3 linked regions of the Homo sapiens genome follow. The protein of the gene in region 3 binds, or shares a complex with, the protein of the main gene of each other region. Each region holds a gene or a part of one and is shown on either strand. Other genes may lie near its edges. The genes, in order: STX17, SNAP29 and VAMP8. A codon is read from its position in the direction of its gene.

Region 1 (7,103 bases), on a different chromosome or scaffold from region 3:
ACAGTTTATAAATAGCCAAATCAGAATTCTAACCCAAGTCTTTCTGACTAGGCCCAGGCTCCTAACCACTACACTATGTTGCCTCCTCCGAACTGTTTTTATGGTTTGCCATTGTGTCTGCAGCACCTCAGCACACTGATCAGCAGGTAGTAGGCATTTAATAAATGTCAACTCAATGAATGAATGATTGGTAAAACCAATATGAGGAAATAAAGACTTGAAGGTAGATTTTAAAGTGTGAATTAATTCATCATCATAGCAGTGTTTAATGGGGAAAGTCCTACTGGGTTGACAACTTTTTAAAACTCAAAAGAAGTAGAAGCAATGGAGTCATGGGCCAGAAGATTGAGGAGAAGAGTAGTGACAAAAAAGACACATATGGTAATGTTTGGTGACAATCTTATTATTACCAATAGTGACTGATTATCATTAATAAAAATATATTACTTCCCTGCTTTCAACACCTTCTGTATCTGGTATTTACATTGAAATAGCCAAATAGAAGTTTAAGGATGAAAAATATTAAACCTATTTATATAGGTACGTCTCCTTGGAACATTGGCCAAGTAGAATAGTTTTCTTTTGGTGCTTCTTCCACATTTAGCCCTAGTTATTCAGATTGGATAGATAGTATTTGTAGCCATTTTTTAAATGACTGTGTAGATTAAAAAAATATGTGTGTAAGCTTGGTGTCATGGCTTACGCCTGTAATTCTAGCATTTTGGGAAGCTGAGGCAGGAGGATCAGTTGAGGCCGGGAGTTCAAGACCAGCCTGGGCAACATAGCAAGACTGTGTGTCAATTAAAAACAAAAAAAAAAATTTTAGAAAAAAAAAATGTGTTAACTAATCTGGGGAACAAGCTACCCTATGGATAAATCTTTTTTTTTTTTTTTTTTTTGAGGCAGGATCTTGCTCTGTTCACCTAGGCTGGAGTGCAGCGGCGTGATCACTGCTCACTGCAACCTCGACCTCCCAGGCTGAAGTGATCCCCCCACCTCAGCCTCCCAAGTAGCTGGGACTACAGGTGTGTGCCACTACACCTGGCTAACTTTTTAATTTCTTTGTAGAGACGAGGTCTCACTCTGTTGCCCAGACGGGTCTTGAACTCCTGGGCCCAGGCAGTCCTCCCGCCTCAGCCTGCCAAAGTGCTGAGATTATAGGTGTGAGCCACTGCACCCAGCCAAACAATTCTATTTTTGTAGAATAATCAATTTCCTTTTAGCCTAAATTTAATTAGACACCATTTAACGTGGCATTTGTTTTATGAAATCAATTTATGCTGTCTCTTTTCTAACAAAGCAAATAAACTCTAAACATGGGGTTATTATGTTCATCCAGGAGCATTTCATACTACTGAAGCTGAAGCTAGTTCTCAGAGTTTGACTCAGATATATGCCTTACCTGAAATTCCTCAAGATCAAAATGCTGCAGAATCGTGGGAAACCTTAGAAGCGGTATGTTAAAAAATGTTTTCTTTTTGGTAGTTGTGAGGCATAAAAGTAACTTCCTCTCCCTTTCTTTTAAAGGACTTAATTGAACTTAGCCAACTGGTCACTGACTTCTCTCTCCTAGTGAATGTAAGTATATAACTGTTTTGGATGCAGAATTGTTGGATTATTAGAATGAGAAGCTTTTATAATCACTAGGCTTTTAATTAGAATTTTAATAGAACTTATAATTTTTAAGACTGGTATTAAGCCATAGATAGAAGTTTAACTGTTCTCAAATTCCAGATTAATTCAAGAAACTTTTATTAAGCACTTGTTATATACAAGCAGTGTGTTAGATGCTTAACATTGAGAGTGTGGTCAGGTTGGATATAGAAATAAATGAAGCCCATTCTCTGCCTTTGAAGATTCTTGTTTTTTGTGTTTTTTTTTTTTGAGACGGAGTCTCACTCTGTCGCCCAGGCTGGAATGCAGTGGCACAGTCTTGGCTCACTGCAACCTCCGCCTCCCAGATTCAAGCGATTTGCCTCCCTCAGCCTCCTGAGTAGCTGGGATTACAGGCACGTGCCACCATGCCCAGCTAGTTTTTGTATTTTTAGTGAAGACGGGGTTTCACCATGTTGGTCAGGCTGGTCTCAAACTCCTGACCTCATGATCCACCCGCCTCAGCCTCCCAAAGTTCTGGGATTACAGGCATGAGCCACCACGCCCTGCTGCCTTTGAGCATTCTACAGTGAGTGGAGATAGGCCTGGACCCCAGAAACTGAGCTTTCAAGCATGATGGCTAAATGCAAAAGCAAGAATGAAGAGAGGTATTATCAGCTCCAAGGAAAAGCATTTAATTCCAAAGGAAGGAGGCAGGAGTCATAAGGTAGAAAGAAGCATTAAGGATAGCTTCACACAGGTAGACAGTATTTGTATGAGCCTTGAAAAATGAGTAAATATCCACTGGGGGAAGTTATGGAGTATATTTGAGAAGCTGAACAAAGACATGGAGTAGAGAAGTGTATGGCCTGTTCCAGATTGACAAGTACTGCAGTATAACCAAAGCATAAGGTACCATGGGCAAGCAAGGAGGGTGAGGGCCAGATTGTGATGGCTTTGAATGCCATGCTAAAGAATTTGAACTTTACTTTGTGGGCATTAGAAAGCCTAATACTGATTCTTGAGCAGGTTAGAGTCATGCAATTCAGTCTGTGCTTCAGAAAGATCACTGTTGGCTTTGTGAATAATGGCCTAAGAGAGGAGGAGGTCATGGAAAGGAAGACTGGTTAGGAATCAATTGCAAGAGTTCACCTGGAGCAATGGCAATACCAGTGTAAAGGTAAAGGACAGCTGAGAGATATTTCTGGGGGACTTAACAGAAATTGGAGGAAGATGGAGCCAAAGATAAGGAACATTGTCTTTATTCTGCATAATTGGGTGTCAGTGATACTGTTAACATAGATTAGGAAGCACAAAGTCAATTTGTTGGGAAAGATAGATTTTCCACCATTTTTCTAAATTGTTCTTTTTGTCTTTCTCAGGAGTTATGGGAAGGTAGGATGTATGAATACGTGTGTATGTATATTTATGTATGTGTGTCCACACAGGCATACCTGTTTCTGCTTGCAGTTCTGTCTAGGTTTAGTTCTTTGTTTCTGATCTAACCATGATTTTGGGGTTATCTTTGAGTTACGGTTTCCCTGAGATCTAATTTTAAATGAGAAGTTCCTAGATCACACAATCAGAATTGGAATGAGAAAGGACTCAAGAGGCCAACTAATCTAATCCCTCTACTCTTGCCCCAATTTCTAAAATAAATGGTCTTTTAGCCTCTTTTGGAACAATTACAGCACAAGGATATTGATACTTAAACTATTGCATTTGGAGGGTCTAACTCTTAGAAGGGTTAGAGTTAAAAGTGTCTGCCCTATAATAACTTCTTTTTGGCATTTTTGGCCTCTAAAGCTACGTACTGAACAAATTTTGCCTTCTTTCCATATGAAAGTCTTTCAAGGTTTTGAAACCATCATCTTTCCTCACTCTATCCCACCCCACCATATTTTCTTCTCTTCAGAACCCTTGCTTCTTTTGCATTCCTTCTACAATATAATTTCTAGGCTTCTCAATACTGGCTTCTTACTATGCTTATGTTCCATATTCTGAATATTTTCTTGAAATGTGTTACCTAAAATTGAATGCAGTAAATTGTTTGAATTGCTTCTGGATGCCTCTAAGTTAGAAGAAGCAAAATATTTGAAGTTTCTGGATTAGGTATCTGTACAATATTAATATACTCGCAAACAGAAGGAAATAATAGAACAAGAATCCCAAAATATCTGTTGTTTCAGAATCAACATTTATTCAACTATTGTAAACTAATAATCTCTGAATCCAGTGCAGTTTGTAAAACCTATACATGTATGGTTACACAAATATATACACTTGCCAAAAGTCATTGGTCTGTACACATAAAATGTGTTTTAATATATGTAAATTATACCTCAATAAAGCTGATTTTAAAAAACAAACTACACATGTACAAAGTTCTTACTCAGTACAAACACATTTCTTTTCTACTGGGATAGGCACATAAAAGAAATATTAAAGGTCTGTGACCATAAGATAGTTACATGTTTGATTATATTATGTAAGCAGCTCATAACCTCTAATCTAAGGGAGATTTGTGTAGGAAAACTCTGGCTGTAGCCACAGCTCTATACAAATGTCCTGTTTGTAATAATCTGTTTAAGTACATGAGACAGAATGCTAATAAGCAAAAGCTCAAAGGAGAACCCCTGATTATTATTCCCAGGGTGACTAAGTTCTCATGACCACATGGCCAAGGATTCACAGAAGCTCTATTTAGGCACAGAATGACCTAGGAACATAACCAGAGTGACCACATCCTCTCATTATCATCACATGGACATGATAGTGTCTAGACAAATTAACCATGTATTTAAGGAACACTTTCTATCTGCGTAGCACTGTGCTAAGCTTAATGAGGAATAGAAAAAAGCATTTAAAAAACTTACAAGATAGTAATAGTGGTTGCACAATATTGTGAAGTTACTTATTGCCACTAAATTGTACACTTCAAAATGGTTAAAATGGTAAATTTATGTTATATTTATTTTACCACTATAAAAAGAACTTACAAAGCCATTGACAGATCAAGGTATAGTACAATAAATGTTAATAAATTAATATCTACTAGGTACCCTGCTCTATTTTTCTTCAGCCTTTGTTGTTCAAGTGCCCTCTTCTCTCCCTATAACTTTGTAACTAGCCCTATTTCTAGTCAAGGAGAATTTAAAGAACCCTGGGCCAGTAGTTCAGTAACAACTCACCCTTGCTGCTAGTCTGTTTTGACTTCTGCCTTTTGCCTTATTCCCTGTCGTTTTTGTAATCCAGTTTTACTCTGGAAACATAAAAACTGGTTGCAATGGATTAGATCAGATTCCTTCATTTATTACCTATGTGACCTTCAGGATGTTATTTGACAACAATGAGCTTTATAACACTGATGGGAGGACTAAATGAGGTAATGTGTATTATTAAGTACTTCCCATTCTGTTCCCTTCCACTGACCCCAACTGCATTCCCACTTTTGTCCTTCCTTTATTTTCATTCCTTGTTTGGCTCCTTGCAAAAATTCTACTTTTTCCACCACTATTATCCTTAGGCATTTTAGTACTGGAATTCCTTCAGTCCCTTTCCAACTGCTGAATCCTCTGTTAGCAACATCCTACTTATCTACTCTGCTTATTGCTTACTCGAAGCCAATATAATCACTTATTTTGCCTATATATCATAGTATTTATAAGTTTGTTTCTGGGCCTTTTTGTGTATATGATTGCATATGATTAAGGAGTATATAGAATATATCATAGGAGTTTAGAACCAGAATAGCTCAATGTGAACAGGATTGGTCAAGATCTAAGATTAGAACTTGGCCTTGAAGGCTGGCTGGAATTTAGAGAGGAATAAATGGACGTACCTGGAGTTTTGGTATTACCCTCTTAAATAAACTCGTAGCTTTCCAAGAACCTTAAACTTTACAACTACTATCAGAACTCTCTATGGAAGACCACTGTTAATGATATAAATGGATTTGGGGGTTAATTTTTGAATGTATTATTATTGCTTGACATAGAGGATGCTAGGCCTACAAGTGTCCCCAACAGGCATTCAAGAACAAAACAGTTCATTGGTTTTGAATTTATATTCCCAAATTGCATTCTGCTTGACAAGTATAATAAATCACAGTTTATACAGAAACTTAGGTACTCCTATAGCTGTTCGTCAAGATTTGTTATGTTCAGGCCAATAGGGGGACTTAATTCAATGTTCTTTAAAATGAAATCCGTAGACATATTCTTAGAGTCATTTGAGAATTTTCTTTTTCTGTAAAAGGAGGTCAGTATATTACTCTAGCTTGAGAAACACTGCAGTGTAATGAGCTAAACACTTAAATATGGTTTAGCTCATTGTTAAAGGAATGCTGAGAACATATATGGGGTGCCAAACTATAAAATGGCAGGTATGGAATTTGAAGATTGTCAAATGTGGGAGGCCTAAGCAGATGAAAATAAACATGAGCAAATCAGAAGCAAAACCTCAGGGGAGATTGATAGATAGAGGTTAGGAGGCTCCTGCACCACCATTAATGTTTAGAGCTTGATTTCACAGGCTGGGGCAGGGTTGTATATGTATCTTTTGGTCCCACAAAAAGAGCCAAGGACATAGTGGACAGGTAGTGACCCAATTCAGCTCTGTATGGAGTCTGGTTTGGCATTCTGCTGATGGTAATTGACAACTCTGTGACAATAGTTTGCTGCCTAACTGTAACCTTTGTGGGGGTCAGTGAGTCCTCCTTACTCAAGAAGCAGAATTTGAAGATATGGGCAAAGTTTGAAGTTGCAAACCAAGCAAAATACGGACAAGAGAAAGGCAGACGTGCACAATCGAGGGGTGATTATTGATCCCAGGATAGGGGCTGTCTGCCCTCTGCCTTATTCCCACACCCCAGCCCCATATCTTAGCATGCTTTCTGATGGCATGAATAAATACTTATAGATGTGGGCTACTCCCCAGGGTGGGATGGGCCTCATCAAATGCTGGTGATTGCAATGATGGGGAACTTTGTAGTTCAAATAATTAGTGATCTCAGGATTGGTTTTTTGCCTGTGGTTGCTTCTTCAGTTATTCCAAATGATTTTTATGAAAAAATATTTAAATTATTTTAAAATTTTGCTTTAATTTTTAAAAAGTCATAGAAGTACAATATCCAACCCTTTTTAAAGGAAGGAACATTAGAAAGTATTTCCCTGAGGCTTTACGATTACACTTGGGGTATAGAAATGGCAATAATCCTGGCAGGCTCCTCCCTCTTGCTGGAATTATTTTGGGGCTGAAGGAAGGGAGACACTGACTATTTTTCCTCTACCTTTCAACTCATCAACATATGACGGCTGATGGTAGAGTTTTAAGCCTGTGATTTATCTGCTAGCATAGACTGTTTCAGGCAAGAGTGGAAAGTGTTGGGGGTGTCCTAAATAGAAACAATGATAGGGTGTCAGAAATCTAGACAAGTTGTATATTATTAGTGCTGGAACTTTTTCTTCTATGGGTCAGAAAAAGAAAGCTGACTTAAATAAGTTTTGCTA
Region 2 (7,103 bases), on a different chromosome or scaffold from region 3:
GTTCAAGGAAGATTTCTTGTGGCAAATGTGCATTATTTAACATTTCTTTTTTTTTTTTTTGCGTATTTGTTTCAAGTGCAAAGATAGTGTAGAAATAAATTTCAGAAAGAAACGAAATTACCCATAATTCCATTTATGTAACGTAACAATTTGTATTTTTATACTTTGTCCACAGACTGTGTAGTTTTGCATTATTGCAGTTCCACTTCTGTATTGTCACTTGTGTGACTCTGTCTTTCCTGAGCTTGTGCACCAGGAGTTAGGTGACCCTTAATTTGAGGGTGTTTGATCTCCCAAGTACTGAGGGAAAGTGAGAACCCTCTCCTACCCCGTGGAAGCGTCTCTTCTTCTGGCCCATGAGCCTGCGCTGTGCTCCTCCCTCATCCCTCTGGATAGCCTCAGAACCAACCCCTTCGTTCCTTCCACCCATTTTCCAGATGAAATTGTTTTGGGTGTGTGAAGCAGCATTTGAAGGAATGTCAATTAACCGCTCTCCTGGTGTTTCCTTCTAAACTTAGACCCTGTCCCCAGAGGGGCTGGTTCTGCCATGAGTACTGATGCTTACCCAAAGAACCCACACCTTCGAGCCTATCACCAGAAGATCGACAGCAACCTAGGTAAGACTGAGCACCACACCAGCTTCTGTAAGCCACTGTCCTTCAGGCAGCTTACGCCAAGCATAGCCCCTGCATGAGCATCCTCCAGCTTCAGTTCCCTCACCACACATCACATCCCACGCCAAGCTGGGTCCATCTTGCCACCTCACTGTCTCTGGAATCTCTCCACTTCTCACCATTTCCTACTTCTAGCCCAGCCGAGCCCTCCCCACCTCTCACTTTCATGAACAGCACCAGGGACCCAGGAGTCCCTGAGAGGCCATAAAGTATAGCCTGGACGTGACCGCTCACTTCATCCTTCCCACCTGGCCACTCAGAGCCCTGTTTTCCTCCTTGTGAAATGGGCTACCTCTGAGAACAGTGGAAAGGTTACCTGAGCCAGAAAGTGCCTGGGATGGTAAGAGTTAGTGCTCGTGTTGCAATTGGCACTTTGGCCACACAGCCTCCAGCATGATGTTTCAAAACGGAAGGGTGTGCAGGGGGCCGGGCGCAGTGGCTCACGCCTGCAATCCCAGCACTTTGGGAGGCCAAGGCGGGTGGATCACCCGAGGTCAGGAGTTCAAGACCAGCCTGACCAACATGGTGAAACCCTGTCTCTACTAAAAATACAAAAATTAGCCGGGCGTGGTGGCAGGCGCCTGTAATCCCAGCTATCGGGTGGCTGAGGCAGGAGAATCACTTGAACCCGGGAGGCAGAGGTTGCAGTGAGCCAAGATCGCACCATTGCACTCCAACCTGGGCAACAAGAGCGAAACTCCACCTAAAAAAAAAAAAAAAGAAGAAGTGAAGGGTATATTCTTCCAGAACTCTCTCATGGAACCCCACACACTCACAGTGCAGTCCAGGCTCTCTTTGGCTGCCCTAGTCCCTTCTGCCCTCATCACCTGCAGGCTCGTGTGGGATTTCTGATGTGAGTTCTTTCTGCCTCGTGGCCCCTATCTGCCTGGATGGGCTCCCCCGACTCTCTGTAGGCTGGCTCCTTCTCTTTCTGTCAGTCTTGCATTAGTATGGCCTCCTCTCCCTGTCTCTCAGGACCCTTGTGTTTCCAGGGGGCTGCCCTGGCCGTTTGTGATTGTGTATCTGCTGGTTTGCCTGCTGTCTTCCCAATCAGACTGTAGATTCCAGGACAGCATGGGAGTGTTTCCATTTTGTCACTACTTTGTATCTGGGGCCCAGCAGGCAAGCACTTAGTGATTATGTTTTGTTTTGTTTTGTTTTGTTTTGAGACAGAGTTTTGCTTTTGTTGCCCAGGCTGCAGTGCAATGGTGCAATCTCAGCTCACTGCAACCGCTGCCTCCTGGGTTCAAGCGATTCTCCTGCCTCGGCCTCCCGAGTAGCTGGAATTACAGACATGCACCACCATGCTCAGCTAATTTTGTATTTTTAGTAGAGATGAGGTTTCTCCTTGTTGGTCAGGCTGGTCTCGAACTCCCGACCTCAGGTGACCCGCCTGTCTCGGCCTCCCAAAGTGCTGGGATTATAGGTGTGAGCCACTGCGCCCTAGCCAGTGATTATTTTTTGAATGGAAAAGTCAGTTACTTGAAATTCAAGTAGGTGTTGGCCTGTGGGCAGTTCTGTGAGTTTATTCTAAGTAGTGTCTCAGACTTGCTGCCTCCTCCTACCGCTACTCCCTGAGCAGAAATCTCCCCCGTGGTGACCTGGGTCACCCTGTCAGTCTCCCACCCCCTGTTAGGAGTTGGCAAAGTGTAGGGGACAAATAATAAAATCCTCCCCTGCTGTAAAGGTATCTAGTGGAAGGCAAAACTGAAACCCATGAAGATGCACATGGAGTGTCTGTGCACGGGTTTTCTCCTGCTTGCTGTCTGGGAAGCCCCAGACAGCTGCCACCTCCTTCTATGCCCTGGACTCTGTCCTCCAGAGCCAAAGACTTATCTGAGGCAGAAGGTGTGTCTGCCCAGATCTAACCACTCCAGAGAAGCCCAGAGAGGCGTGAAAGCCCTTTGTCCTTCACTGCGAGAAAGGGAGAGGTTAGGGCTAGTGGTATGGTTGGTGCCTGCTGGCAGAAGTGGGAGAAGGGACTTTGAGGAAGGATACTGCATTCAGAGGCAGGAAGAAGTGCTGAGTACTGCCCGCCACTAGGAGGTGCTGAGGGTGCACAGTTGGCACTGTGGACGAGCAGCTGGGCAGTTACCGGCAGGACGCAGTCTAGAGTAGGAGGTGGGCCTGGGCAGAAGGGCGAGTGGCTAGTTCAGAGCTCAGCCCTCTGGCCCTGCTGACACAGGCCAGGCCGGTCCACTCTGGTGGGGCAGGGAGTGTTGCCTTTGTTCACACTCTTCCCGTCTTAACACTATCTCCCTGCTATTTCAGGATCTCAGGCAAGCTCTCTGGACTCCAGCGCCCTGGCCTGGTGGTTTTACATTATCACACATTTTATCTCAGCCTCTCTGTTTGCTTATCCTTTGCTGCCCTGGCTGCCAGTGAGCTTCCTCCTGAGGCCTGAGGCAACCACAGGCTCTGCTCTCCATGGAGCACGAGGCCATGAATTTTAGTAAGCTTAAGAAGCAAAGAGCTGAAGACTTATCTTTTTTTTTTTTTTAATTTTAATTATACTGTTTTTCTCTTTCTTTTCTTTTCTTTTTTAGAAATGGAGTCTCGCTTTGTTGCCCAGGCTAGTCTCCAACTTCTGGGCTCAAGTGATCCTCCCACCTCAGCCTCCCAGAGTGCTGGGATTACAAGCATGAGCCACTGTGCCTGACTTGAAGACAATCTTTTTATTTTTATATTTTTTAATTTCTTTCTGAGAGTTTTACTCTGTCGCCCAGGCTAGAGTGCAGTGGCACAATCTCAGCTCACTGCAGCCTCTGCCTGCTGGGTTCAAGTGATTCTCATGCCTCAGCCTCCCGAGTAGCTGGGATTACAAGGTGTGCACCACCATGCCCAGCTAATTTTTGTATTTTTAGTAGAGACGGGGTTTCACCATGTTAGCCAGGATGGTCTCGATCTCCTGACCTCAAGTGATCCACCCACCTCGGCCTCCCAAAGTGCTGGGATTACAGGCATGAGCCACCACACTCAGCCTATCTTTTTATTTCATTTTTTGAGACGGAGTCTTGCTCTGTCGCCCAGGTTGGAGTGCAGTGCATTGATCTCAGCTTACTGCAACCTCCTCCTCTCAGGTTCAAGTGATTCTCTTGCCTCAGCCTCCCGAGTAGCAGGGAATACAGGCATGCACCACCACATCTGGCTAATTTTTATATTTTTTAGTAGAGATGGGGTTTCACCATGTTGGCCAAGCTGGCCTCAAAATCCCGACCTCATACGATCCACCCACCTCAGCCTCTCAAAGTGCTGGGATTACAGGCATGAGCCATTGTACCCGGCCAAAACTACCTTTTTAAAAAAACTGATTTTGGCCGGGCGCGGTGGCTCACGCCTGTAATCCTAGCACTTTGGGAGGCCAAGACGGGCGGATCACAAGGTAAGGAGTTCGAGACCAGCCTGGCCAATATGGTGAAACCCTATCTCTACTAAAAATACAAAAAAAATTAGTCGGGTGTGGTGGCGTGTGCCTGTAGTCCCAGCTACTCAGGAGGCTGAGGCAGAAGAATTGCTTGAACCCAGGAGACGGAGGTTGCAGTGAGCCGAGATCATGGCACTGCACTCCAGCCTGGACAAAAGAGCAAAATGCTGTCTCAAAAAAAAAAAAAACAAAAAACTGATTTTGCTTAGATTTGTGGTACCAGTGCTAAGCCTTTGTGTATCCTGATCCTTTTTCTCTTAGTGTTTTATATTTAATCTTGCAAGTAAGAAGGCTTACAAAGCACCACCTCTTCTCTCTCCTCTCTGGCTCTTTCCTGGCTGCTGTTCCTAGTAAAAAGGCAGAAAGCAGCCCTGGGCATATCTCCCTACCCCCAGCGTGCACAAACACACACACACATACACACACACACACACAGTCACAAACCTGGGAAAAGGCTTTACTCTTCACCCTGACAGAATCAATTAAGTCAAGACTCATCTCTGCAGTGGGTGCAGTCCCCCCAGGCAACACAGATCCCTGTCTCTCCCACTTACCCACACCATCAAGAAGCATTTGCAGGTGCCGTGACTGTTTGCTCATGCCTGCGTGTCATTTCCTCCTCCTGCAGATGAGCTGTCCATGGGACTGGGTCGTCTGAAGGACATAGCCCTGGGGATGCAGACAGAAATTGAGGAGCAAGATGACATTCTTGACCGGCTGACAACCAAAGTGGACAAGTTAGATGTCAACATAAAAAGCACAGAAAGAAAAGTTCGACAACTCTGAAGACAGACGGATTTCCACTCTATTGTGATGAAAAGATTTGAAAGATCTTTTTTTGAACTTCCAAGAAATTTCATTTACTATTTTAGTATGTAAATTAATGTGTGTTTGCAAATGTTATAATAGAGTAGGTCTTAAGACATTTTTGCTGTTATAAGGAAGTGTTTGTCCCACATTTTCCTAGGGTTAACACCTCACCAAGTTCTTCCAGCAAAATGCTTATTAGAGTTTTTGTCTGAGCACAGTAGCCTGGCCCTGCATATCTTGGGCGTTTGATTACCATGCTGGAATAAGAAGAGTTGCATTTCTCATTTTAATGAGCATATGGAAAGATGGGAACAGAATTTCAGTCTTGCAGCCATGAGCCTCTATTTCTCATTCCTAAGCCTTACCATGAGTCAGAGTGTTAAGGGGGCCTGTGAACCAGTCGTTTGGTGGAGGAGGGTCCTTCCCACACCTTTGTTTAGGAGTCATCATTCACACACACACACACACACACACACACACACACACACACACACACTCTCTGAGCACATTATCTGTGATTCTTTCATCCTCCCAGAAAGGATCAGTGTTAGAATGGGAAATAGAGTGTGCCATCTTGCTCTTTTGTTGGCAGATGTCCCCGCTTCCCTCCAGCCCCCCATCCTTGGCATGTATATTAGTAGGAGGGCTTCACACCAGCACTGCTCACTGCGACTCCTGGAAATGTGTGGGGAATTGGGTGAGCCCCTCTTCCCCACGTGCTCCCATCTGTAACTCTCCATCTGTGATTTGCAACAGGTCTTCCACTGGCTCGAGGCTGCGAGGCTGACCGACAGGGGCGCCCAATAGAGTTTGTGGGAATGGAGTATTGCACAGATGCAGCTGCACAATGGTCTTCCTCCACCCCTCTGGGAATCACCATTAGGCAGGCCTCAGTAGGGCAAAATGTTTATTTGGTACCGGGGGTCTCCTGACCTGTCTAGCATTCCCACCCACTCTTCTGCACTTCTTGCAAGGTAACTTGAATCATCACTTATTTCTCTGCCACCTGGTTTTAGGACTGGCACTCTATAAATGACGCTGACTTTGTATAGAAGGATTTTGCTAAGGGGGCAAAAAGCCCAGATACCATTTTAACTGGCCCAGTTCATTTTCTCCTTTCATTTTACAAAAGAAATCATGCAGAAGCATCAATTAAAACTGATTTATTTATGTTGGTACATCCAACAAAATAGTTGGAGCCACAAGGCCCTTGTCTTTTTAAAAAAACAAAATATTTTGAAGATGGTGAAAGTGACTGATTTTAATAATGAGATAGGTCACTTAAAATAACAGTGCCTTTGACCTTAAAACATGGCACTGGCCCATGTGACCTTTGCCATTTCCCAGTACTTCCCTTTACAGTCTGCAGCCTATAAACAGTGGTGTCTCAAAGCAAAGGAAACCTCCACAAGTGCTGCAACAGTGCATTAGTTTTTATGTAGCAATTTGTTTATAAAAATTCCCATCCCATAATGCATGACCTTCCTAAAAATATCCACAGCCTCCATAGGCAAGGTGAGCTTTCTGTGCTACCCACTTGTTAGATTCCAGCCACCTCAGGGATTCTGATCCATGTCATTAACGACCATCCCAGGGTGTGAGGGCCTGATTAAAGCTTATCGAACTAGACATTTGTTTATTAGATGAGCTCGGCATTATTATTTTCTCAATAACTGGTAGAAGGGAAATTTTAAACATAACACTCAACCCAAACAAAACTACTTCGTGAGGCTTTCAGCAAAAAGGCTGCTTAAAAGCATGAACCCGGGATGCAGAGCAGCTTTTGTGCACGGTTCCACTTACTGTAATTGTTTCTGGTTCTTTCCTCTAACACCTTCCATGTATGTCAACTTTTTATCACCGTCAGGCATAGACTCGTGGAGATTAGTCATTATAGCTCAGACCTAAGCTAATTATTTAAAATAAATACATGTAAAGGCCACTGCCACATTCTCAGCAGACTTCCACTTGCCTAATGAGATTAGTGATTCAACTGACTTGAAGCACAGTAACATCTTATTTTATGCACATTCCCTGTCTTTTGCTGGACTGATGAAGCCAGTCACCCGCCCTTCTCTGTTTTTTGGTTTTTTTTTTCTTAACCCCAGGTATATGGAAGGGGAGTTGCCTTCACTTTTCTGGAAATTTGTCTTCGTCTGACATATTAGAGGGCCTCGTTTTGTCCTGTTCTTGTT
Region 3 (7,028 bases):
TGAGGCTTAGAGTTGTTATGCAAGTTTGTCCCAGGTCATGTAAATATTAAGGTATGGATCAGCCACCATGCCCAGTGATAAGCCACATTACAATATGTATTTTAACATTTTTCACTAATCACATAATTTACATTTTTCTACTGGCCAAATTTTAAAAGTAAGAGAAACAGGGCTGGATGCAGTAGCTCATGCCTGTAATGCTAACACTTTAGGAGGCTGAGGCAGGAGGATCACTTGAAACCAGGAATTTGAGGTTACAATGAACTATGATTGTGACACTGTACTCCAGCCTGGGTGACAGTGAGACCCTGTCTCAAAAAAAATAAATAAATAAATAAAAATGAATTTTAAAAAATAAAGAAACAGGTGAAATTATTATTATTATTATTTTTTTTTTTTGGAGACAGTCTCACTCTGTTACTCAGGCTGGAGTGCAGTGGCGCCATCACGGCTCACTGCAACCTCTGCTTCCCAGGTTCAAGTGATTCTCTTGCCTCAGCCTCCCGAGTAGCTGGGATTACAGGCAAGCGCCACCACGTCCAGCTAATTTTTGTATTTTTAGTAGAGACGGAGTTTCACCATGTTGGCCAGGCTGGTCTCAATCTCCTGACCTCATGATCGGCCTGCCTCAGCCTCTCAAAGTGCTGGGATTATAGGTGTGAGCCACCATCCCCGGCTGAAATTAATTTTATTTATTTTATTAATCTTTTATTTAACTCAATATATCCAAACATTATTTCGCCACATAATCAATATATAAAATTATTATTATTATCATTATTAGTGACAGGGTCTATCTCTGTCTCCCAGGCTGGAGTGCAGTGGCACTATCATAGCTCACTGATGTCTCACACCCCTGGGCTCAAGTGATCCTTCTGTGCTAGCTCTCCAAGCAGCTAGGACTATGGACATGCACCACTATGCCTGGCTAATTTTATTTTATTATTTATTTATTATTGGTTTTTTTTTTTGAGATAGAGTCTCACTCTTGTTGCCCAGGCTGGAGTGCAATGGTGTGATATCGGCTCACTGCAGCCTCCACCTCCCGGGTTCAAGCAATTCTCCTGCCTCAGCCTCCCGAGTAGCTAGGATTACAGGCATGCGCCACCATGCCTGGCTAATTTTGTATTTTTAGTAAAGATGGGTTTTCTCCATGTTGGTCAAGAGCTGGTCTCGAACTCCCGACCTCAGGTGATCTGCCCATCTCGGCCTCTCAAAGTGCTGGGATTACAGGCGTGAGCCACGGTGCCCAGCCAATTTTATTTTTTTAATTTTACTTTATTTTTATTTTATTATTATTATTATTATTATTATTACTTGAGACAGAGTCTCACTCTGTCGCCCAGGCTGAATTGCAACGGTGTGATCTCGGCTTACTGCAACCTCCGCCTCCAAGGTTCAAGCGACTCTCCTGCCTCAGCCTTCCGAGTAGTTGGGAATACAGGTGCCCACCACCATGCCCAGCTAGTTTTTGTATTTTTAGTAGAGATGGGGTTTCGACATGTTGATCAGGCTGGTGTCAAACTTCTGACCTCAGGTGATCCACTGCCTCGGCCTCCCAAAGGGCTGGGATTACAGGCATGAGCCACTGTGTCCAACAGTTTTATTTTTTTATAGAGACAGTGTCTTGATATGTTGTTGCCCAGGCTTATATATAATATTTGCTGAGCATGGTGGGTTATGCCTATAATCCCAGCACTTTGGGAGGCTGAGGTGGGAGAATCACTTGAGGTTTGGAGTTTGAGACCAGTTTGGACAACACAGCAAGACACTGTCTCCAAAAAAAAAAAAAAATTAACTGGACATGGTGGCCCTTGCCTGTAGTCCCAGCTAACTGGGGAGGATGAGGTGAGAAGATTGCTTGAGCCCAGGAGTTCAAGGCTGCAGTGAGCTTGAACACACTGCACTGTACTCTAGCCTGGATGACAGAGTGGGACCCTGCCTCTAAAAAAAAAAAAAAAAAGCTACAGGGGTCCGAAGTTTGTTTAAAGCTTTTAAAAAGGCATTTGTGGCCGGGCGCGGTGGCTCACGCCTGTAATCCCAGCACTTTGGGAGGCCAAGGCGGGCGGATCACCTGAGAGGTCAGGAGTTCGAGACCACCCTGACTAACATGGTAAGACCCTGTCTCTACTAAAAATACAAAAAAATTAGCCGTGCCTGGTGGCATGCACCTGTAGTCCCAGCTACTAGGGAGGCTGAAGCAGGAAAATCGCTTGAACCTGGGAGGCAGAGGCTGCAGTGAGCCGAGATAGCGCCATTGCACTCCAACCTGGGCAACAAGAGAGAAACATCTCAAAAAAAAAAAAAATTATTTGTGTCTGGATGTGGTGGCTCACACCTATGATCCCAACACTTTGGGAAGCTGAGGAGGGAGGATTACTTGAGAACAGGAGTTTGAGACCAGCCTGGGCAACATGGTAAGACCCCCATCTCTACAAAAAGTTTTAAAATAAATTAGCCAGACATGGCGGTTCGCACCTGTAGTTTCAGTTACTGGGGAGGCTGAGGCAGGACGATCGCTGTAGCCCAGGAGTTCAAGGCTGCAGGGTGCTACGATCATGCCACTGGACTCTAGCCTGGGTGACAGAGGGAGACTATCTCAAGAAAACAAAACAAAATAAACAAACAAAAAAAGTGTTTGTTGGAGAAGCTGACATTTCCTCCTTGGAACTGATTTCTTCTGGAATGGGTCAAGAATGTTCGTTCCCTTCTGAATGTCCCTGTTATTGTTCTTCTGTCTTGATAAACACTGTCAAGGAAGATCAGATTTTCTCTGGCCTGGAGCCAGGTTAGTGGAAAAATCCTTTGCCTTGGGCCCCCTGCTCTGGTTCACTGGGGCAGTCCTCTGATCACTGACTGGGATCAATTACCTCTGCGGTAGCCCCTAAAGGGAAATGCAGAATTGCTGAACTCTGGAAGGGAAGGAGAGGTTTGGTGAGCCATCATTATAGACACTGTGCTAGTGGCATTGCACTGCACATGCTATCTTTTTGCTTCTTTTTTTTTTTTTTTTTTTGAGGCAGAGTCTTGCTCTTGTCACCCAGGCTGGAGTGCAATGGCATGATCTCAGCTCACTGCAATCTCTGTCTCCCGGGTTCAAGCAATTCTCCTGCCTCAGCCTCCTGAGTAGCTGGGATTATAGGCAACTGCCACCACGCCTGTTTATTATTTTGTATTTTTAGTAGAGACAGGGTTTCGCCATGTTGGCCAGGCTGGTCTTTAACTCCTGACCTTGTGATCTGCCCGCCTCGGCCTCCCAAAGTGCTGGGATTACAGGCGTGAGCCACCACGCCCGGCCTCTTTTTGCTTCTTACCAGCACCATCTGAGCTAAGCATCAGCACCTGCAAACTCCACAGAGGTGAAAAGTTTCCCTGAGGGGCCTGTAACTAGTAACCCAGAACTTTCTGAATCAGAGCCCAGGATCACAGTATTCCAGACTTCAGGGATTTTAGTGCTTTCTGCCACCCAGGGACCTGGGAACAAGTGTTATCCAGCAATACATTTTCATAACTGCATTTTGTTTCCCTGTGAGCTAGGCCTGGCATGGTTGATCTCAGTCTCTAGAAACTGGAGTCAGATATTCAAGACATTACAAGGAGATGGCTGGTGGGGCATCATGGCTCCTAGGACTTTGGGAGGTTGAGGTGGGAGGATCGCCTGAGCCCAGGAGTTTGAGACCAGCCTGGGCAACATGGTGAGAACTCGTCTCTATTTAAAAAAAAAAAAAAAAAAAAAAAGGCTGCCCTTTCTAGATCAGGAGGTCCAGCCTCTGGAAACCTCGGAGGGCTGCTTGATCTTTCTTTTCTAATTCCTGACAAGTTAGAAGACCTTTGGCTTCTGAGAACCCTATTACTTTAAGTTTAAGCTCTTGTTTGGGAAGCCACTGGGAGGACAGTGAAGAATGCCCGCCTACCTGGGGAAACCTGAGTTAGGTGTGGCTGGAGCGACTCGAGATGCGAGGTGGGCGGGGGCAGGCTGAAAGTTGGAGCAAGCAGGAAGTGAACTGAGGGCCACCCTGGGAGGAAGCCGACTAGGCGAATTCACTTACTGACCGGCCTGGGCTGCTCTGAGACATGGTGAGCCAACTGGGAACTAGGAAAGGGCTGGTTTAAAGAGGAGCCAGAGGGGGCTTGGGACTGGGGGTTGGCTGTGTCGGGGGAGGAGAGTTGGTGGCAAAGTTAGAGGGCTGGGCCAGTGCTGCTATGGCCTCTCTTCTTTGACAACTTGGCTGCAAATAGCTCTGAGCTGTCCTGGCAGGTGTTTCTACTCCTTCTCCCTCCCTCCCCTGACCTCTGTGCTGGTGGGGAGCTGGGCTTCCGTGCCAGCGCCGATGGGGGCTCCGAATTCCAGGCAAAGAGTTGTTGTGCCTTCCTCCTCCAGGGAGCCCGAGGCGGGTGTTGTGACACCACACCAGGCAGCGCCTGGGCAGTTCCCAGTTCAGATTCCAGCCCAGCGGCAGAAGCTCTCCTCTCCGGCCTTTCACTTTATCCCCACACAGAAACACAAAGGATTTGTGTGTCCACTGAGTCCTTTGGGTGTCCTTTCTCCATTAACATGGAGAAGAGAACTAAAGGTTTATAAGAGAACCAGAAGTTGGTTCTCTGTGATAATGTAGTTCTGACCCATGCCACTGGCCTATTTTTGGAGGTCAAGCGGGGAGGAGCTAAATACTATTTTTCTCTCCTTGTTCAAAAACCTTGTCATGAAGCCTCCGAGATGAGACATCAGCCAGGGAGGACTAGTCCTCCATTTCCCCCAACACCCAGGCGGGTATTTTTATTTAATATCTGCATAAGCAGGCGGTTGCTTGGTGCCTGCACGTGTCGCCCAGTGGTGGGGAAAGCAGAAGTGTGTGGCTCAACGGCTCCAGGCGCCTTCTGGGATACTTGGTTGCCTGTTGTTCTGGGTCACAGCAATGGCATTGCGGCCAGGGCCGTGCTCCGGCAGCTGGCTTAGAGGGACAGATGGGTGGGGCTGGGTGAGGGTGTTCTGCTGGCCAGCACAGACACTTTCAACCAGGGTCCCAAGAAATCAGGAAAGGGGGGTGGCTCTGGGAATTGTAAATAGTGGCGGGCTCTGCTCTGGAAGGGAACATTGTGAGATGCTGGCCCTGCTGTATTCTACGGCCCTCTCTAGGGAGCAAGGAAGCAGTGGGGAGGGATTTAGTGATGTGCTGCTTTTCCTTGTCAGGGGCCCTAATAACCCCAAAAGAAGTTTGATCTAGTCTGTTCAGCATCACATCTCACCTTCTGGGGCTTACAAATGCATTTATTTTTGATTACAGAAGTAATACATGAAAACATTCTCTTTGTAAACATTTCAAGCATTTTACAAAAAGCTTAAGTCTGCCTGAGGCCTTACCCTCCCCAGATCTCTGAGCCCAAGTCTCCAGTTCCCCCACCACTTGGTCTAATTAACCCCGTGTTGCCGCACAGGAGGAAGCCAGTGAAGGTGGAGGAAATGATCGTGTGCGGAACCTGCAAAGTGAGGTGGAGGGAGTTAAGAATATTATGACCCAGAATGTGGAGCGGATCCTGGCCCGGGGGGAAAACTTGGAACATCTCCGCAACAAGACAGAGGATCTGGAAGCCACAGTGAGACAGGGAGCCCACTGGGGGCTGGAGGAAAACAGGGAGGGAGGGAATTTCTTTTTGGTGGGGCAAAATGGACAGGAGGGCCAGAAGTTTGACATTTCTGTTGCCTTTCACCTGGTTTGGGAGCTGATGTGAGCTGAGTCTCCACTTCTGAATCTGCTCTGCTCCACAGATTGTTATGGATCCCAGGGAATGGATCCCATGACTGGGGCTTGAGGTGGCAGCTCGCCCATAGAGGCATGTTCTGAGACCGAAAGCTCAGTCAGCCCATGCATTCTCAGGCTTCTCTCCCGGGAAACTTGTTTTCCCTTTGAAGCCTGCCCATGACAATCATCTGGGTCTGACCTTCCCAGGGCAGAAATATTGGCTCTGAGGAAACCCCCGCTGTGGCCTCTAGCCTTCTCTAGGAGCTGTTAGACAAGGGGTGGGAAATTGCTGGCGTCTTGCTGAGTAGGCTTTAAAAAGAAGGGGGAAAGAGCAGTGAAATGCTTTGATCCCAGGGTCCCCTGCTAGATGAAGGCTAAAATAATATCTCCCACACATCTTGCTAGACCTCATTCTTCTCTCTCTCCAGCCAGGGGCTGAGGCCAGCTGTTTCAGGGAGGAAGTAACTCCAAAGTTGAGCAAAGTCTGGAGCCTCAAGTTCTGTGTTCAGCGGGGAGGCTGGCTCTGGCTTTCTGAGTCCTGTGTGAACTCTTGGCTCTTGGGTATTGCTCCCTTGTCTCCCTGGGGCTCATTGCCTGTTTCTGTAGCTTAATTGTAGCTTAATTTGGGGAGCATGGCCCCGGGAATTTTTTTTTTTTTTTTAGACAGAGCCTCACTCTGTTGCCCAGGTTAGAGTGAGTGCAATCTTGGCTCACTGCAAACTTCACCTCCTGGGTTCAAACGATTCTCGTGCCTCAGCCTCCTGAGTAGCTGGGATTACAGTGTGCACCCCCACACCTGGCTAATTTTTTGTATTTTTAGTAGAGACGAAGTTTTGCCTTGTTGGCCAGGGTGGTCTTGACCTCCTGACCTCAGGTGATCCACCTGCCTTGGCCTCTCAAAGTGCTGGGATTACAGACTTGAGCCACCATGTCTGGACAAGCCCCAGGAAATTTAGTGTCTATAACTTGAATTGCTGGGCATGGGGAAGAGTGGGTGGAGGAGGAGGAGTTCCCTTACTTCCAACCCTCTATCCTGTCCTGGTCCCTCCTCCAGCCTCAGCAGTCCCGATGGGGCAAGGAGTCCTGGAGCTGCGAGATGTGCCCACCTGGAGCCTGCACCCCTCAGTCCCAGGGTCTGCCCTCCCAAGGGCAGATTTTGCTGCCAGTGTTGTACCCTTGGGTGTAAGCAGGTGTCGAGGACCCCTCAGTGTGCAGGGGTAAGAAGAGAAAGGGGACCCCTAGTCATATCTAGGTGGAGACCTCCTAGGATCCTGAGAATTCTAAATT

What was found.
Region 1: the proteins of VAMP8 (region 3) and STX17 are in contact, whole or in part, in a crystal structure (PDB 7BV6), measured with the Homo sapiens proteins. Residues at the interface, in NP_003752.2 of Homo sapiens: Gly9 (codon at 5,458), Val13 (codon at 5,470), Leu16 (codon at 5,479), Gln17 (codon at 5,482), Val20 (codon at 5,491), Glu21 (codon at 5,494), Val23 (codon at 5,500), Lys24 (codon at 5,503), Met27 (codon at 5,512), Thr28 (codon at 5,515), Asn30 (codon at 5,521), Val31 (codon at 5,524), Ile34 (codon at 5,533), Leu35 (codon at 5,536), Arg37 (codon at 5,542), Gly38 (codon at 5,545), Leu41 (codon at 5,554), Glu42 (codon at 5,557), Leu44 (codon at 5,563), Arg45 (codon at 5,566), Thr48 (codon at 5,575), Glu49 (codon at 5,578), Leu51 (codon at 5,584), Glu52 (codon at 5,587), Ser55, Glu56, Phe58, Lys59, Ser62, Gln63; in NP_060389.2 of Homo sapiens: Ser171 (codon at 1,435), Trp172 (codon at 1,438), Thr174 (codon at 1,444), Leu175 (codon at 1,447), Asp178 (codon at 1,528), Leu179 (codon at 1,531), Glu181 (codon at 1,537), Leu182 (codon at 1,540), Leu185 (codon at 1,549), Val186 (codon at 1,552), Phe189 (codon at 1,561), Leu192 (codon at 1,570), Val193 (codon at 1,573), Gln196, Glu198, Lys199, Ile200, Ser202, Ile203, His206, Val207, Ser209, Ala210, Asn213, Val214, Glu216, Gly217, Thr218, Asn220, Leu221.
Region 2: the proteins of VAMP8 (region 3) and SNAP29 are in contact, whole or in part, in a crystal structure (PDB 4WY4), measured with the Homo sapiens proteins. Residues at the interface, in NP_003752.2 of Homo sapiens: Leu16 (codon at 5,479), Glu19 (codon at 5,488), Val20 (codon at 5,491), Val23 (codon at 5,500), Ile26 (codon at 5,509), Met27 (codon at 5,512), Gln29 (codon at 5,518), Asn30 (codon at 5,521), Arg33 (codon at 5,530), Ile34 (codon at 5,533), Arg37 (codon at 5,542), Asn40 (codon at 5,551), Leu41 (codon at 5,554), Leu44 (codon at 5,563), Lys47 (codon at 5,572), Thr48 (codon at 5,575), Asp50 (codon at 5,581), Leu51 (codon at 5,584), Thr54 (codon at 5,593), Ser55, His57, Phe58, Thr61, Ser62, Val65, Lys68, Phe69; in NP_004773.1 of Homo sapiens: Leu206 (codon at 614), Leu209 (codon at 4,732), Ser210 (codon at 4,735), Leu213 (codon at 4,744), Leu216 (codon at 4,753), Lys217 (codon at 4,756), Ala220 (codon at 4,765), Leu221 (codon at 4,768), Met223 (codon at 4,774), Gln224 (codon at 4,777), Ile227 (codon at 4,786), Glu228 (codon at 4,789), Gln230 (codon at 4,795), Asp231 (codon at 4,798), Leu234 (codon at 4,807), Leu237 (codon at 4,816), Thr238 (codon at 4,819), Val241 (codon at 4,828), Asp242 (codon at 4,831), Leu244 (codon at 4,837), Asp245 (codon at 4,840), Ile248 (codon at 4,849), Lys249 (codon at 4,852), Thr251 (codon at 4,858), Glu252 (codon at 4,861), Val255 (codon at 4,870), Arg256 (codon at 4,873), Leu258 (codon at 4,879).

What each region holds. Positions count from the first base shown.
Region 1 is NC_000009.12:99,958,578-99,965,680, forward strand, and holds part of STX17 (syntaxin-17), read left to right. Parts: intron 1-1,339; coding exon 1,340-1,455; intron 1,456-1,527; coding exon 1,528-1,578; intron 1,579-7,103. UniProt on the Homo sapiens protein: SNAREs, soluble N-ethylmaleimide-sensitive factor-attachment protein receptors, are essential proteins for fusion of cellular membranes.
Region 2 is NC_000022.11:20,882,953-20,890,055, forward strand, and holds part of SNAP29 (synaptosomal-associated protein 29), read left to right. Parts: intron 1-518; coding exon 519-617; intron 618-4,726; coding exon 4,727-4,884; 3' UTR 4,885-7,103. UniProt on the Homo sapiens protein: SNAREs, soluble N-ethylmaleimide-sensitive factor-attachment protein receptors, are essential proteins for fusion of cellular membranes.
Region 3 is NC_000002.12:85,573,573-85,580,600, forward strand, and holds the start of VAMP8 (vesicle-associated membrane protein 8), read left to right. Parts: upstream 1-4,013; 5' UTR 4,014-4,074; coding exon 4,075-4,077; intron 4,078-5,436; coding exon 5,437-5,595; intron 5,596-6,169; coding exon of another isoform or gene 6,170-6,302; intron 6,303-7,028. UniProt on the Homo sapiens protein: SNAREs, soluble N-ethylmaleimide-sensitive factor-attachment protein receptors, are essential proteins for fusion of cellular membranes.